Linked DNA regions of Homo sapiens. The protein of the gene in region 1 purifies or fractionates together with the protein of each later gene. This does not show direct contact. Each region holds a gene or a part of one and is shown on either strand. Other genes may lie near its edges.

Region 1 (3,806 bases):
TAGTCCTGGGAAGTTCATGGGCATGTGGGCCCCAGGGACAGAAAATGGCCCCAGACATTATTGTGCTGAAGCATCAGATCTGAAGAAAACTCAGTCATTCTTGGGTTGAAAGGTAACTTGAAATTGCAATTAGAAAAAAAGGAAAAAAAAAAAAAAAACCCCAGAAAATTGCAATTAAAGGCTAGTTAGGTATTAACCGCTATGAAATGAAATTGATGAGATGAGGCCAAAGCTGCATTCAGAGGTAAATTAATAGCATTCAAATGCATTTAAAAAAAATTATTAAGTAGCAAACTATTGAAATAAATCAAGTGCTTTCCTGTAGAATTAGAAAAAGGACAATAATATAAATCTACAAAAGTCAGTGGCAGGACTAAGTGAAATTAAAGTCAGAAATTAATGAGTTGGTTAATATATTTTAAACTTTAATGGTAAGTAGATCTAAAAGATAGAAAAGCTCCTGACAAGGCTAATCAAGAGAAAAAAAAATCACGTGGTATTATGAATAAAAAAAGGTACTGTTATGTAAAGTATTTTAGGAAAATACAAATTCATTACAGCATTAAAAATAAACTAAATAATTAAAAAGGTTTTAGTTGCCTTCATTGAAAAGACCAACAACTACAGAAGAAACTGGAAATATATTTTTATTTTTTTTTTGTTTTTTGTGTTATTGTTGTTGAGACAGAGTCTCCCTCTGTCGCCAAGGCTGGAGTGCACTGATGTGACCTCAGCTCGCTACAATCTCTACCTCCCAGGTTCAAGCGGTTCTCCTGCCTCAGCCTCTTGACTAGCTGGGATTATAGGCGCCTGCCACCAGGCCTGGCTAATTTTTGTATTTTTAGTAGAGAGGGGGTTTCACCATGTTGGCCAGGCTGGTCTCAAACTGCTGACCTCATGTGATCCACCTGCCTTGGCCTCCCAAAGTGCTGGGATTACAGATATGAGTCACCGTGCCTAGCCTGGTTTTTACTTTTCTAAGTGGTTGGAAAAAAGTCAAATGAAGAGCCAGGCCATGCTTATCATCCCATCTACTCAGGAGGCTAAGGCAGGAGGATTACTCGAGCTCAGGAGTTCGAAGCTATAGTGAAATGTAATTGCAACTGTGAATTACCACTGCACTGGGGAACATCACGAGAACTCATCTCCAAAAAAAATAAATCAGGCGGGGCGCGGTGGCTTATGCCTGTAATCCCAGCACTTTGGGAGGCTGAGGCAGGCGGATCACCTGAGGTCAGGAGTTCAAGACCAGCCTGGCCAACATGGCGAAACCCTGTCTCTACTAAAAATACAAAAATTAGCCAGGCGTGGTGGCGTGCGCCTGTAGTCCCAGCTACTCAGGAGCCTGAGGCAGGAGAATCACTTGAACCCGGGAGGCGGAGGTTGCTGTGGGCCGAGATCATGCCATTGCACTCCAGCCTGGGCGACAAGAACGAAACTCAGTCTCAAAAAAAAAAAAAAATCAAATGAATAATACTCCTTGACCTTGTGAAGATTCTATGAAGTTCAGATTACAGTGTCCAGAAATTGTTTTGTTTGTTTGTTTTTTTGAGACAGCTTCTCACCCTGTCATCCAAGCTGGAGTGCAGTGGCGCCATCTCAGCTCACTGCAACCTCCACCTCCCGGGTTCAAGTGCTTCTCCTGCCTCAGCCTCCCAAGTAGCTGGGATTACAGGCACCTGCCACCACGCCCAGCTAATTTTTGTATTTTTAGTAGAGACAGGGTTTCACAACATTGGCCAGGCTGGTCTCAAACTCCCAACCTCAAGTGATCCGCCCCCCTCGGCCTCCCAAAGTGCTGGGATTACAGGCATGAACCACCGCACCCGGCCCAGAAAAGTTTTATTGGAACATAGCAACACCCGCTTATGTATATATTGTCTGCAGCTGTTCTGGGGCCAGAACTGCAGAGCTGAGTGGTTGCAATAGAGACTGGATGGTCTGCAGAGCTTAATCTATTGACTCTGGTCTTTTGCTGAAAAAGGGTGCCAACCGCAGTATTAAACAGTTACAGACCAGGCACAGTGGCTCATGCCTGCACTTTGGGAGGCTGAGGCAGGAGGATTGCTTGAGTCTAGGAGTTTGAGACTAGTCTTGGCAACATAGCAAGACCCTGTCTCTACAAAAAATAAAAAATTAGCTGGGCACAGTGCCATGTGCCTGTGGTCCCAGATACTTGGCAGACTGAGGCAAGAGGATCACTTGAGCCTCAGAGATTGAGGCTGCAGTGAGCCTTGATGCCGTCACTGTACTCCAGCCTGGATGACAGCGCAAGACCTTGTCTCAAAAAAAATGCAAATAGTTACAGTGGGCGGGGCATGGTGGCTCAACGTGGGAGTTCAAGACCAGCCTGGCTAATATGGTGAAACCCCGTCTCTACTAAAAATATAAAAAATTAGGCCAGGCGCGGTGGCTAACGCCTGTAATCCCAGCACTTTGGGAGACCTAGGCGGGTGGATCACCTGAGTTCAGGAGTTCTAGACCAGCCTGACCAACATGATGAAACCGTCTCTACCAAAAACAAAAAAATTAGCCAGGTGTGGTGGGAGGCGCCTGTAATCCCAGCTACTTGGGGGGCCGAGGCAGGAGAATTGCTTGAAACCGGGAGGCGGAAGTTGCAGTGAGCCAAGATCGCACCATCACGCCATCACACTCCAGCCTGGGGGATAAGATCGAGAGTTCATCTCAAAAAAAAAAAAAAAAAAAAAAAAAACTTAGCCGAGCGTGGTGGCACTTGCCTGTAATCCCAGCTACTCAGGAGGCTGAGGCAGAAGAATCGCTTGAAACCGGGAGGCGGAGGTTGCCGTGAGCCAAGATCGTACCACTGCACTCCAGCCTGGGAGACAGAGTGAGACTCCATCTCAAAATAAATAAATAAATAAATAAAAATAGTTACAGTGGATAGAAAGGAAGGGACTCTTGTCCCTGCTGTTTGGCACTAGGACAGCTGAGCTGGGCATTGTCACATTTTGAGGATACAAGAGTCTTATTTATCCTTGGTTGGGGAGCCAGGAGAGTGCCGAGGGGCGGTGCCTGGGCCGCAGGCAGGGCCTTACTCTTCTGCCCTCTTCTTCAGCGCATTTTGGAGGACCAGGAGGAAAACCCGCTGCCCGCCGCCCTGGTCCAGCCCCACACCGGGAAACTGTGCTGGTTCTTGGACGAGGCGGCCGCCCGCCTCCTGACCGTGCCCTTCGAGAAGCATTCCACTTTGTAGCTGGCCAGAGGGACGCCGCAGCTGGGACCAGGCACGCGGCCCATGGGGCTGGGCCCCTGCTGGCCGCCACTCTCCGGGCTCTCCTTTCAAAAAGCCACGTCGTGCTGCTGCTGGAAGCCAACAGCCTCCGGCCAGCAGCCCTACCCGGGGCTCAACACACAGGCTGTGGCTCTGGACATCCGGATATTAAAAGGAGCGTTGCTGGAAGTCTGCACTGTCTCGCGGTGTTTGATGGCAGCAGGCCTGGGGGCGCCCTGGCCTGGGTTCTGATCCATAGCCCTCATCTGTGGGGAGGAAGGCGGGGCCTGCTTCCCTGGGGCATAGCCACCATGGATGAATTTCCTAAGACAACAGGCTGGGCACAGTGGCTCACGCCTGTCATCCCAGCACTTCGGGAGGATGAGGTGGGCAAATCACTTGAGGTCAGGAGTTCGAGACTAGCCTGGCCAACATAGTGAAATCTCTTCTCTACTAAAAATACAAAAATTAGCTGGGCGCGGTGGCTCACACCTGTAATCCCAGCACTTTGGGAGGCCGAGGCTGGTGGATCACGAGGTCGGGAGTTCGAGACCATCCTGGCTAACACAGTGAA
Region 2 (3,806 bases), on another chromosome or scaffold:
CCTAATACTTAGAAAATCTCGTAAGCTTAATTTTAGAGTAAGAATTTAGAATCTAGCTCTTTGGTTTTGAAGCTAAATTAAATCCTATTAAGATCAATACTAATTTGCTTCTTGTTTGAATGCCCTATTCTGAATACCAGTAATCAGTATAAACAGGGAATATTAAAAGGAATATTTTGAGGGAATGCTCAAAAACCAGTTTCAAACCTATGAGGATCAGATGGGCCAGCAGGGCTTCTTGACAGACCAGCATTGGGAGAGTTGTTTCACAAGAGAATATGTTGGCATGGTGTGAACACCAAGGGGAGGGACAAGAGGTCCCCAAAAGCCTCCTGGTCATGGAACATCTGGAGCTGGATTCTGAAAGATAGAGTATGTCAGCTGTGGAGGAAGATTCTAAGAACGCAATGGCAGAAGCTTGAGAATGAAGACTAGGTGGGTGGGCCCTGGATGGGAAGGACGAGGCGGCCTATGTTTCAACACCTCCCGTGACAGGAACTTCATTTCATTTCATTGTCTCTTGCCACCTACTCCCATGGCCCTTTTGATCTGACCTCATTCTCTTCTGGCTCCACCTGTTAGAGGATATAGGGGAGCAGACACCCTCATATGCTGCTGGTGGGAAATCTGAATTGCTTTTTTTTTTTTTTTTTTTTTTTTTTTTTGAGATGGAGTGCAGTGGTGCAATCTCGGCTTACTGCAACCTCCACCCCCTGGGTTCAAGCGATTCTCCTGCCTCAGCCTCCCGAGTAGCTGGGACTACAGGTGTGCGCCACCACACCCAGCTAATTTTTGTATTTTTAGTAGAGATGGGGTTTCACCATGTTGGCCAGATGGTTTCGATATCTTGACCTCGTGATCTGCCTACCTCGGCCTCCCAAAGTGCTGGGATTACAGGCGTGAGCCACCATGCCAGGCCCTAAATTGCTTTAATTCATCGAAAAGTAACTGGGGGCTAGGCACAGTGGCTCATGCCTGTAATCCCAGCATTTTGGGAGGCCGAGGAGGGAGGATCCCTTGATCTCAGGAATTTGAGACCAGCCTCAGCAACATAAGGGAGGCCGTGTGTCTACAAAAAGTAAAAAAAAAATTAGGTGGGCATAGTGGTGCACTCCTGTGGGCCCAGCTACTCTGGAGGCTCAGGTGGGAGGACCACTTGAGCCCAGGAGGGCGAGGCTGCCATGAGCTGTGATGGCACCACTGCACATCAGCCTGAGCAACACAGCAAAACCGTGTCTCAAAAAATTAAAAAAGCAGCTAGGTACATATCTTTACAAGTTTAAAATACGCTTAGCCTTTGACCAGCAACTCTGCTATTAGCAATCTATGCCATAGAAGTGTTTTATTTGTTTTGTTTATGTTTGTTTGAGGCAGGGTCTGTGCTGCTTACATTACAGTATTGTTTAATTCCTGACCCCTGGTGGTTCACAGGTGAAGGTTGTCATCCTGGGACAGGATCCATATCATGGACCTAATCAAGCTCACGGGCTCTGCTTTAGTGTTCAAAGGCCTGTTCCGCCTCCGCCCAGGTACAGTTGCTTTACAGGTGACTGCAGTCCAGACATGATTCCTTTCAGATGTGTACTTAGCTTATTACAAGTGGGACTATCTGGGGCACTGTTCACTAGCCTTGGAGGAGGATTTCTCGGCCTCAGCACCATTGACATTTGGGGCTGAGTCATTCTTTGTTGTGGAGGAGGAGAGGAGTCCTGTGCTATTGCAGGATCTTGTGCCACATCCCTGGCCTCTACCACTGGAAACCAGGAGCAACCCCCAGCTCGTGATAATGAAAAATGTGCAGACATTGCCAAAAGTCCCTTGGGGGCGTAAAATCACCCCTGGTTAAGAACCACTGCTTTGGGCCGGGCGCGGTGACTCACGCCTGTAATCCCAGCACTTTGGGAGGCTGAGGCAGGAGAATCGCTGGATCCCGGGAGGCGGAGGTGGCAGTGAGCCGAGATCCTGCTACTGCACTCTAGCCTGGGTGACACAGCAAGACTGGAAAAAAAAAAAAAAGAACCACTGCTTTTGGAGGATTTGGTGTATGATATACATAAATATGCTAAGGACAGAAAACTGTCCCTGAGCAACAGTGGGGGTCTGGGTTGTAACTGCTGGGTTGATTTACTTAGGTTTTCCAGAGTGCTGTTAAATCCAAGTACAGACTAAAGTAAAGGTCTTTGGCAGAGTCACCTGTTAGAAGGAGGACTGGCAGTGTTGATCTCATTAATCGGCGCCATATGTGCCAGTGTCCCTTCCAAGGGCTGGCTGTAACTTCTAACCTTTTCACATATGTCTTAGACGTTACTGAGCTTTCAAAATTATGCTTAAGATTCTGTTTTTTGTTTTTCTTGTGGCTTGCTTTCAGTTTGGAGAACATTTATAAAGAGTTGTCTACAGACATAGAGGATTTTGTTCATCCTGGCCATGGAGATTTATCTGGGTGGGCCAAGCAAGGTAAGCCAGCGACTGCTAGATTTTTTTTTTTTTTTTTTTTTTGAGACCGAGTCTCACTCTGTTGCCCAGGCTAGAGTGCAGTGGTGCAATCTCAGCTTACTGCAACCTCTGCCTCCCAGGTTCAGGCGATTCTCATGCCTCAGCCTCCTGAGTAGCTGGGACCACAGGCATGAGCCACCATAGCTGGCTAATTTTTTAATGTATTTTTAGTAGAGACAGGGTTTCACCATGTTGGCCAGGCTGGTCTCGAACTCCTGACCTCAGGTGATCCGCCCGACTCGGCTTCCCAAAGTGCTGGGATTACAGGCATAAGCCACCACGCCCAGCCCCGACTCCATTGTTGATGGTAGTGGCTGCTGCCATTATGCCGGCTGCAGCAGGGAAGCACAGCTTGCTACACTGGATCCCATCAAGCATTGGTTTCATCATGGATTTAGCTCCTGTTGCTGGGTATTGGGCTGATTTGCCTGAGCCTACATTTAACCTGTTTCTCTCATGTGTATAGGTGTTCTCCTTCTCAACGCTGTCCTCACGGTTCGTGCCCATCAAGCCAACTCTCATAAGGAGCGAGGCTGGGAGCAGTTCACTGATGCAGTTGTGTCCTGGCTAAATCAGAACTCGAATGGCCTTGTTTTCTTGCTCTGGGGCTCTTATGCTCAGAAGAAGGGCAGTGCCATTGATAGGGTATGTTTTGTTTTCTTTCTTTTTTTTCTTTTTTTTTTAACACTATAAAAACAATGTAAAGAATTCTAGGAGTCCCTGCTGTGTTTGGTCCTGGAAAATCCATGTTATAAAATAACTTTTATTTTCCCTTAGGCCTGTTATAAGGGTTTCCCATTGAAAACTGAGAAGAATTTGGACAAATTATAGGGGTGATGAGTTGTGTATGAGGAAAGCAAAGCAACTGGCCAACTTGTGACTGAATGCAGTTGGTGCTGTAGGCATGAACTTGGTGTCTACAAGATACAAGTCCCTGGGTACCATTCACTTAACAAGTGATGGATGAGGCATGTTTCTGGCTTCCAAGAAATTTGGGAACATATAGAAAACACAAAGAATTCCACTCAATCACAAATTTAACTTGCCCATGAAAATACTATCAGTGATCATTATTGTTTTGTTTCTGGGTTTTTTGTTTTTTGATGGAGTCTCGCTCTGTTGCCCAGGCTGTAGTGCAGTGGTATGATTTTGGCTCACTGCAACCTCCGCCTGCTGGGTTTAAGTGATTCTGCCTCAGCCTCCCGAGTAGCTGGGACTACAGGCGCCCGCCACCACACCCGGCTGATTTTTTTTTATTTTTTAGTAGAGACAGGGTTTCACCATGTTGGCCAGGCTGGTTTTGAACTCCT
Region 3 (3,806 bases), on another chromosome or scaffold:
GGTGGGTAATGCGTTTCTCCGCTCCTCCAGGCCTGGATGGGCATCTGTCATTGTCTGTGGGCGGACCAAACACACCACCACTACATCCATGTTCCAGGACGGGTGGCTGAGGCTGTACTTAGTCCCACCCAGCAAATTCCCCCACCTACTCCTTGCTTCAGTACCGTGTATTATAGCTATTTAGATGACTTCTCCCTCACCACCCTAAAAGCTCTTCCACAGACAGGGCCCTTGTCTTAGAGCTCTGTGAACACACTCATGACACAGTGAGTGCTTATAAATACCACAACCACAGATGCCCTGCAGAAGGTCAAGGAGCCCGGCTACAAGGAACTAAAGAAGTGTGGCATACAAGAAAATTAACCAGGTGTGGTGGCGCATGCCTCTGGTCCCAGCTACTTGGGAGGCTGAGGCAGGAGAATTGCTTGAGCCCCAGAGGCAAAGGTTGCAGTGAGCAGAGATCGTGTCACTCACTGCACTCCAGCTTGGGCTACAGAGTGAGACTCCTTCTCAAAAAAAAAAAAAAAAAAAAGAAGATATGTGGCAGGGACAGGGCGGGGGTTTTAAAGGAACTCTAGATACCTCTTTGGTAAGTCCCACAAATGCCCACAGAATTAAAGCTCCCAATCAGAAACCATCTCAATCTCTCCAGGGGGAAAGCAGAAATACTCACCAGGCCTCAATTCACCAAGGGCCTAGACTTGAATATTTCATGATAAAAATAAATACTGCAAATATAACTCTAAAGCTCACTTCCCCAATGTTGTCCTTAGAGAATTAAAAAACTAAACCAAAAGATTCATTTCTACCTCTTCCCCCAACTCTTTTAAAACAGTATTGAAAGGGTTTTCTTGGCCAGGCGCAGTGGCTCACGCCTGTAATCTCAATATTTTGGGAAGCTGGGGCAGCTGGACCACTTGAGGTCAGGAGTTGGAGACCAGCTTTGCCAACAGGGTGAGACCCTGTCTCTACTAAAACAAAAAATACAAAAATTAGCTGGGCATGGTGGTGCGTGCCTGTGATCCCAGCTACTTGGGAGGCTGGGGCAAAAGAACTGCTTGAACCCAGGAGGTGGAGGTTGCAGTGAGATCATGCCACTGCATCCAGACTGAGCAACAGAGCGAGACTCTATCTTGAAAAAAAGGTTTCCTTGAACAACTACCACTTACCTGCTATCTGGGGAGATGATGGGAGGAACAAGCAATTTTCACAACTGGTTTGGTTTTTTTTTTGAGACAGAGTCTCGCTCTGTTGCCCAGGCTGGAGTGCAGCAGCGTGATCTCGGCTCACTGCATCCTCTGCTTCCTGAGTTCAAGCGATTCTTCTGCCTCAGCCTCCCAAGTAGCTGGGACTACAGGCGCACACCACCATGCCCGGCTCATATCTGTATTTTTAGTAGAGACGGGGTTTCACTACATTGGCCACACTGTTCTCAAACTCCTGACCTCGTGATCCACCCATCTCGGCCTCCCAAAGTGCTGGGATTACAGGCGTGAGCCACTGTGCCCGGCCACAACTGGTCTTTTTTAAACGTATGAGCTAAGGATAAAGGCTGGGGTGATGGATGCCGCGGGCCATCTGCAGGGGCTGGAGACAGAAATGAATATTCACCAAGTGCCTCTACCCTGCACTGGATTTGCCCCAAGTACTTTATCCACACAATCCCACGACTACCCTGTGAGGCAGAAGGCATTGTGCCCATTTAATGGATGAGGAAACTGAAGCTCTGGAATGCTAACTGTTTTGCCCAGGGTCACGCAGCAAGGTGGAATTCCAGGCCTGGCTCCAAAGCTGGTGCCCCTTCCTCTGGCCCAGGTGCTGCAGAATAAAACTAAAGAGGTCGGGTGCGGTGGCTCACGCCTGTAATCCCAGCACTTTGGGAGGCCGAGGCAGGTGGATCACAAGGTCAGGAGATTGAGACCATCCTGGCTAACACCGTGAAACCCCATCTCTACTAAAAAAAAAAATACAAAAAATTAGCTGGGCGTGGTGGCGGGTGCCTGTAGTCCCAGCTACGCAGGAGGCTGAGGCAGGAGAATGGCGTGAACCCGGGAGGCGGAGCTTGAACTGAGTGGAGATCGCGCCACTGCACTCCAGCCTGGGAGACAGAGCCAGACTCCGTCTCAAAAAAATAAATAAATAAATAAATAAATAAATAAATAAATAATATGGAAACCATTCTCCCTACCTTTAATTTACTTGGGAGGCTGAGGCAGGAGACTCGCTTGAACCTGATTCTCCTGCCTCAGTCTCCCAAGTAAATGGGATTACAGGTACACGCCACCATGCCCAGTTAATTTTTTGTATTTTAGTAGAGACAGAGTTTCACCATGTTGGCCAGGCTGGTCTTGAACTCCTGACCCCAAGTGATCCACCCACCTCGGCCTCCCAAAGTCCTGGGATTACAGCCGTGAGCTACCATGCCTGGCCCATTCTCCCTACCTTTCAAGACTTCCAAAATGAAGATATTCTACAAGGGGAAAATCTGTCCCTACTCTCAATCTTAGAAATGGCCTATTCCTAAAATAATATCAGAAACTATTTGCAGTGTGTGTGTTTTTTTGTTTTTTTGTTTTGTTTTGTTTTTGAGACAGAGTCTCGCTCTGTTGCCCAAGCTGGAGTACAGTGGCGCAATCTCGGCTCATTGCAAGCTCTGCCTCCCAGGTTCAAGCGATTCTCGTACCTCAGCCTCCCGAGTAGCTGGGTCTACAGGCGACCACCCACACACCCAGCTAATTTTTTTCTATTTTTAGTAGAGATGGAGTTTCACCATGTTGGTCAGGCTGGTCTCAAACTCCTGACCTCAGGTGATCTGCCTGCCTTGGCCTCCCAAAATGCTGGGATTACAGGTGTGAGCCACTGCGTCTGGCCTTTTTTTTTTTTTTTTTTAAGACAGAGTTTCATTCTTGTTGCCCAGGCTGGAGTGCAATGGCACAATCTTAACTCAGTACAACCTCCGCCTCCCAGGTTCAAACGATTCTCCTGTCTTAGCCCACAAAGTAACTGAGATTACAGGCATGCGCCACCACACCTGACTAATTTTGTATTTTAAGTACAGACGGGGTTTCACCATGTTGGTCAGGCTGGTCTTGAGCTCCTGACCTCAGGTGATCCACCTGCCTTGGGCTCCCAAAGTGCTGGGATTACAGGCATGAGGCACCACACCCGGCTCACAATGCTTTATAACACATCAAACAGAGTCAAAACAACTTTTCAAATATTAGGCCTTCAGAACCCTTCTTAACTGAAGGGTAGTTATTAATTACACTGTTTTGCAGATGTGTAACTAACTGCAGGACCACAGAGAGTTGAGACTTTGCCCGAAGCTACCCAGTAAGCCAGTGGCAGAAGTCTCCTAAGGCTCCTGAGGGTCCATCTGCTGCTTTTTTTTTTTTTTTTGAGACAGAGTTTCACCCTGTTGCCCAGGCTGGAGTGCAGTGGCGCGATCTCGGCTCACTGCAACCTCCACCTCCTGGGTTCAGCTGATTCTCCTGCCTCAGCCTCCTGAGTAGCTGGGATCACAGGCATGCGCCACCACGACTGGCTAATTTTTTTTTTGTATTTTTAGTAAAGATGGGGTTTCACCATATTGGCCAGGCTGGTCTCGAACTCCTGAGCTTGTGATCCACCCACCTCAGCCTCCCAAAGTGCTGGGATTACAGGCGTGAGCCACCACGTCCGGCCCATTTGCTGCTTTTTAAAGGCTACAAGAAGTCTCTCTACAATACCTTCCTTCCTTCATGCTGAGAGGCCCAGAGCCCACCACTGCCTTCCAAACCAGGTGCTGGGAAAACGAGGCAAGTCAA
Region 4 (3,262 bases), on another chromosome or scaffold:
ATATTCTCTTGCTGATTGTAAGACCATTTGCTTGAGATCCCATGGTGCTCATTAGAAGTGACGGAAGCACCGCTAGTAGATATCACTGTTGTTTGGCTAGCCTAGGATTCTATATCTGAATAGAGTACCAGGGAATTAATTATGAAAGACCTTGGTATTTGCATTCTATGATATGAGATATCAAATATCACATATCTCATGGGAGAAGTGGGGAAATGCACTTTTCTTTATAACTAAAAAACTGCCACTAAAGTTAATTTGATTTTATTTATCTGGGAAACAAACATCTGTGGAAATTTGGTGCACTTACTACTACTTTCTCAAATTTAATGTGCTTCAAAAACATATGATGGAAAACATGCCAAATCAATGACATCATGTTATTCTAATCCTTTTTAAAATTTATTTGGCATAAAGGATGTACTTAGGTGCAATTTTTTTATTTTTATTTTTGAGATATAAAACAAATGCCACATTAGTCATCAGTTTTCCATGTTTTTAAATAAATAAACTGTGAAAGATCTCATTGAACAGAACTCACTCCCTTATTACCATCGCTTTAAACAGTTGGAGAAGGAATTTGTGTAAAAACCACTTGAAAGTAACTTGTAGACATGATGACGTTTGTCTTCTAAATACACATTTCAGCGTGTGTGTCTTTAATAAAAGGGACATTGTCTAACATAGCCACAGTACAATGATAAAAGTAAGGGAATTAACATGGATACATAATCTAATATAAGACTTTATTCAAATTTTGAAAATTTTAATCCAACATCCAGTCTAGAGTCATGTATTGCATTTAGTTGTCATTTCTCATCAATTTCCTTTAATTTAGAACTTGCTTAGTCTTTGTCTTTTATCACCTTGACATTTTTCAGAAGTATAGGCCAATTATTTTGTAGTCTGTCTCTTGAATTTGAATTTGTCTGGTTTCCTCATGATTATATTTGGATCATGGATTTTTGGCAGGAATGCCGCAAAAGTAATGTTCTGTCCTTCTCAGTGCATTTTATCAGGCACATTTCTTTTTGTCCCATTATGAGTGATATTAACTTGGATAACTTGGTAATGGTAGACCATTGTAAAGATGCTATTTTTCCATTGTACTTATTATGTATCTTGTGGAGAGACACTTTGACACTCTGTAAATTATCAGACTCACCCATTAATTTTAACATTGATTCTTTACTGAATAAATTATTACTATAATTGCTATCAAGTGTATTTATATTCAACTTAACTTGTATTCAAGGAAGAGGTGCTATGAGAGGGCAAACCTGCAGTAATTTTCCAAGGCAGGCTTAGGTCTTTGCAGAGCCTGGCATGCTGTTGTTGCTTTAGGCACATGTATGACGCACACCCAGTTGAAAATGACCCATACCATGATATTTTACACCTCCTAGAGACTATTTGCATTGTGGGTATGTGTATATGTGTGTAAAATAATATAAGCTTTAGTAGCTGGATTTAGACAAATATTAATATACTTGCATTTCATTATTGTAGAATTAAGCATTGTCTTTATTTTTTATGAAAAATTATTGTTTTAATGTTTATCTTATTAAATTATTGCTTTGTGAGGGTTTTGTGATTTATATAATATACGATGATAATTAGATTTATACATATTTTTATTTTACAATTAGATATCACCTCTTAAAATCTTTATCCTCTAGATCGTTCCAAGTTTCTTCAATCGACACTTAAAGTGAAGTTAAGGAGGAATATCTTACTTGAAAGGATTATTTTTTCCAATTTTATTTCTAAATTCTATTTGTTAGGATCCGGAGTGTTGGAACAGCAGCTGTTAATATGTGCCTTGTGGCAACTGGCGGAGCAGATGCATATTATGAAATGGGAATTCACTGCTGGGATGTTGCAGGAGCTGGCATTATTGTTACTGAAGCTGGTGGCGTGCTAATGGATGTTACAGGTAAAATTATGGAGAGTGAAGCAGATCTCCACACATCTGTTGGACTTTTGTCCATATGTAGAATTTAAAAAACTTTTTGATATATGTTATACTGCAGTTTTTGAAGCAGAAACAAGCTATATAATTGTGTGCAAAATCAAAATAAGCTTTAGGAGATAGAGGTAAGGATAAGAGGTAATGGTAATGTGAGACTTACAATGATAAATGGCTAATCCTTTTCTAGTGTGAGTTTCAGGTACTCCTGAAAGGCTGTAGAAAAAGCCTAGACCAAGTTTGTCCAACCTGCAGTCCATGGGCCACATGTGGCTCAGGATGGCTTTGAATGTGGCCCAACACAACTTTGTAAACTTTCTTAAAACATAATGAGTTTTTTGCGATTAAAAAAATTTTTTTTAGCTCATCAGCCGTCATTAGTGCTAGTGTATTTTATGTGTGGCCCAAGACAATTCTTATTCTTCCAGTGTGGCCCAGGGAAGCCAAAATATTCGACACCCTTGGCCTAGACAGTCACCGAGTCTGAGGCTTATACCCAGAGCTCTTTGAATGGTGACAATGGTGATAGTTGATGATGGACTTCCTCCACCATCACTTTCTGTGTTGAGACTAGAGAAGTTAAATAATTGCTTTCAACTGATGGTGAAAATTTTAAACCGAAGGGTGAATCTGTGCTGAAAGAATTCACCAGTGATCTGGGAGAAAGGCAACAAAGAAATAAGGAAATGGGAAGGACAGTGGTATGAAAATGCATTGGATTCACATTTTCTGTCCATAGATTCTTAAACAATAAAGAGGTAATAAGAATGCACAAAAATAGAGAAAATATGACATTTTCTAACTGGTATGACTTCATTATTTACTCAAAAATTATGCTTAGAAACAGTTATATATTGTCTAAGCTTATACATTGTAGAAATGTAACAGTAGATTTTTGTTTAAGAAAACTGAAAGTATTAAAATGTTATGTGACCATAGTACATATTGCTATACTTGTTTTATATGAATTATTTTTGTACCAGATAAAATTATTTTTCATACTTGTTTGCTTTTAGGTGGACCATTTGATTTGATGTCACGAAGAGTAATTGCTGCAAATAATAGAATATTAGCAGAAAGGATAGCTAAAGAAATTCAGGTTATACCTTTGCAACGAGACGACGAAGATTAATTAAGGCAGCCTCATAGTCAATCCCAGTTGCTTTTCCCCAGATTTGGTGACTCATCAATGGATATGTGTTTTGGATGTATGATATGCTTGGTTTAAATTCTCTTTGTCCAGGTCAAAAATTTGGAACTTGTTTCTTATTTTACTATGTCTAGGTTTGCAAG

What was found. Proteins that work in one complex are often made in the same cells at the same time.
Region 2: the proteins of PGLS (region 1) and UNG fractionate together in Homo sapiens (co-fractionation; one large-scale study listed by BioGRID). This does not show direct contact.
Region 3: the proteins of PGLS (region 1) and ACO2 fractionate together in Homo sapiens (co-fractionation; one large-scale study listed by BioGRID). This does not show direct contact.
Region 4: the proteins of PGLS (region 1) and IMPA1 fractionate together in Homo sapiens (co-fractionation; one large-scale study listed by BioGRID). This does not show direct contact.

The regions. Positions count from the first base shown.
Region 1 is NC_000019.10:17,517,868-17,521,673, forward strand, and holds the end of PGLS (6-phosphogluconolactonase), read left to right. Parts: intron 1-3,076; coding exon 3,077-3,214; 3' UTR 3,215-3,421; downstream 3,422-3,806. UniProt on the Homo sapiens protein: Hydrolysis of 6-phosphogluconolactone to 6-phosphogluconate.
Region 2 is NC_000012.12:109,100,471-109,104,276, forward strand, and holds part of UNG (uracil-DNA glycosylase), read left to right. Parts: intron 1-1,431; coding exon 1,432-1,529; intron 1,530-2,368; coding exon 2,369-2,457; intron 2,458-2,962; coding exon 2,963-3,141; intron 3,142-3,806. UniProt on the Homo sapiens protein: Uracil-DNA glycosylase that hydrolyzes the N-glycosidic bond between uracil and deoxyribose in single- and double-stranded DNA (ssDNA and dsDNA) to release a free uracil residue and form an abasic (apurinic/apyrimidinic; AP) site.
Region 3 is NC_000022.11:41,475,491-41,479,296, reverse strand, and holds part of ACO2 (aconitate hydratase, mitochondrial precursor), read right to left. Parts: intron 1-3,806. UniProt on the Homo sapiens protein: Catalyzes the isomerization of citrate to isocitrate via cis-aconitate.
Region 4 is NC_000008.11:81,659,190-81,662,451, reverse strand, and holds part of IMPA1 (inositol monophosphatase 1), read left to right. Parts: intron 1-1,784; coding exon 1,785-1,936; intron 1,937-2,985; coding exon 2,986-3,101; 3' UTR 3,102-3,262. UniProt on the Homo sapiens protein: Phosphatase involved in the dephosphorylation of myo-inositol monophosphates to generate myo-inositol. Is also able to dephosphorylate scyllo-inositol-phosphate, myo-inositol 1,4-diphosphate, scyllo-inositol-1,3-diphosphate and scyllo-inositol-1,4-diphosphate.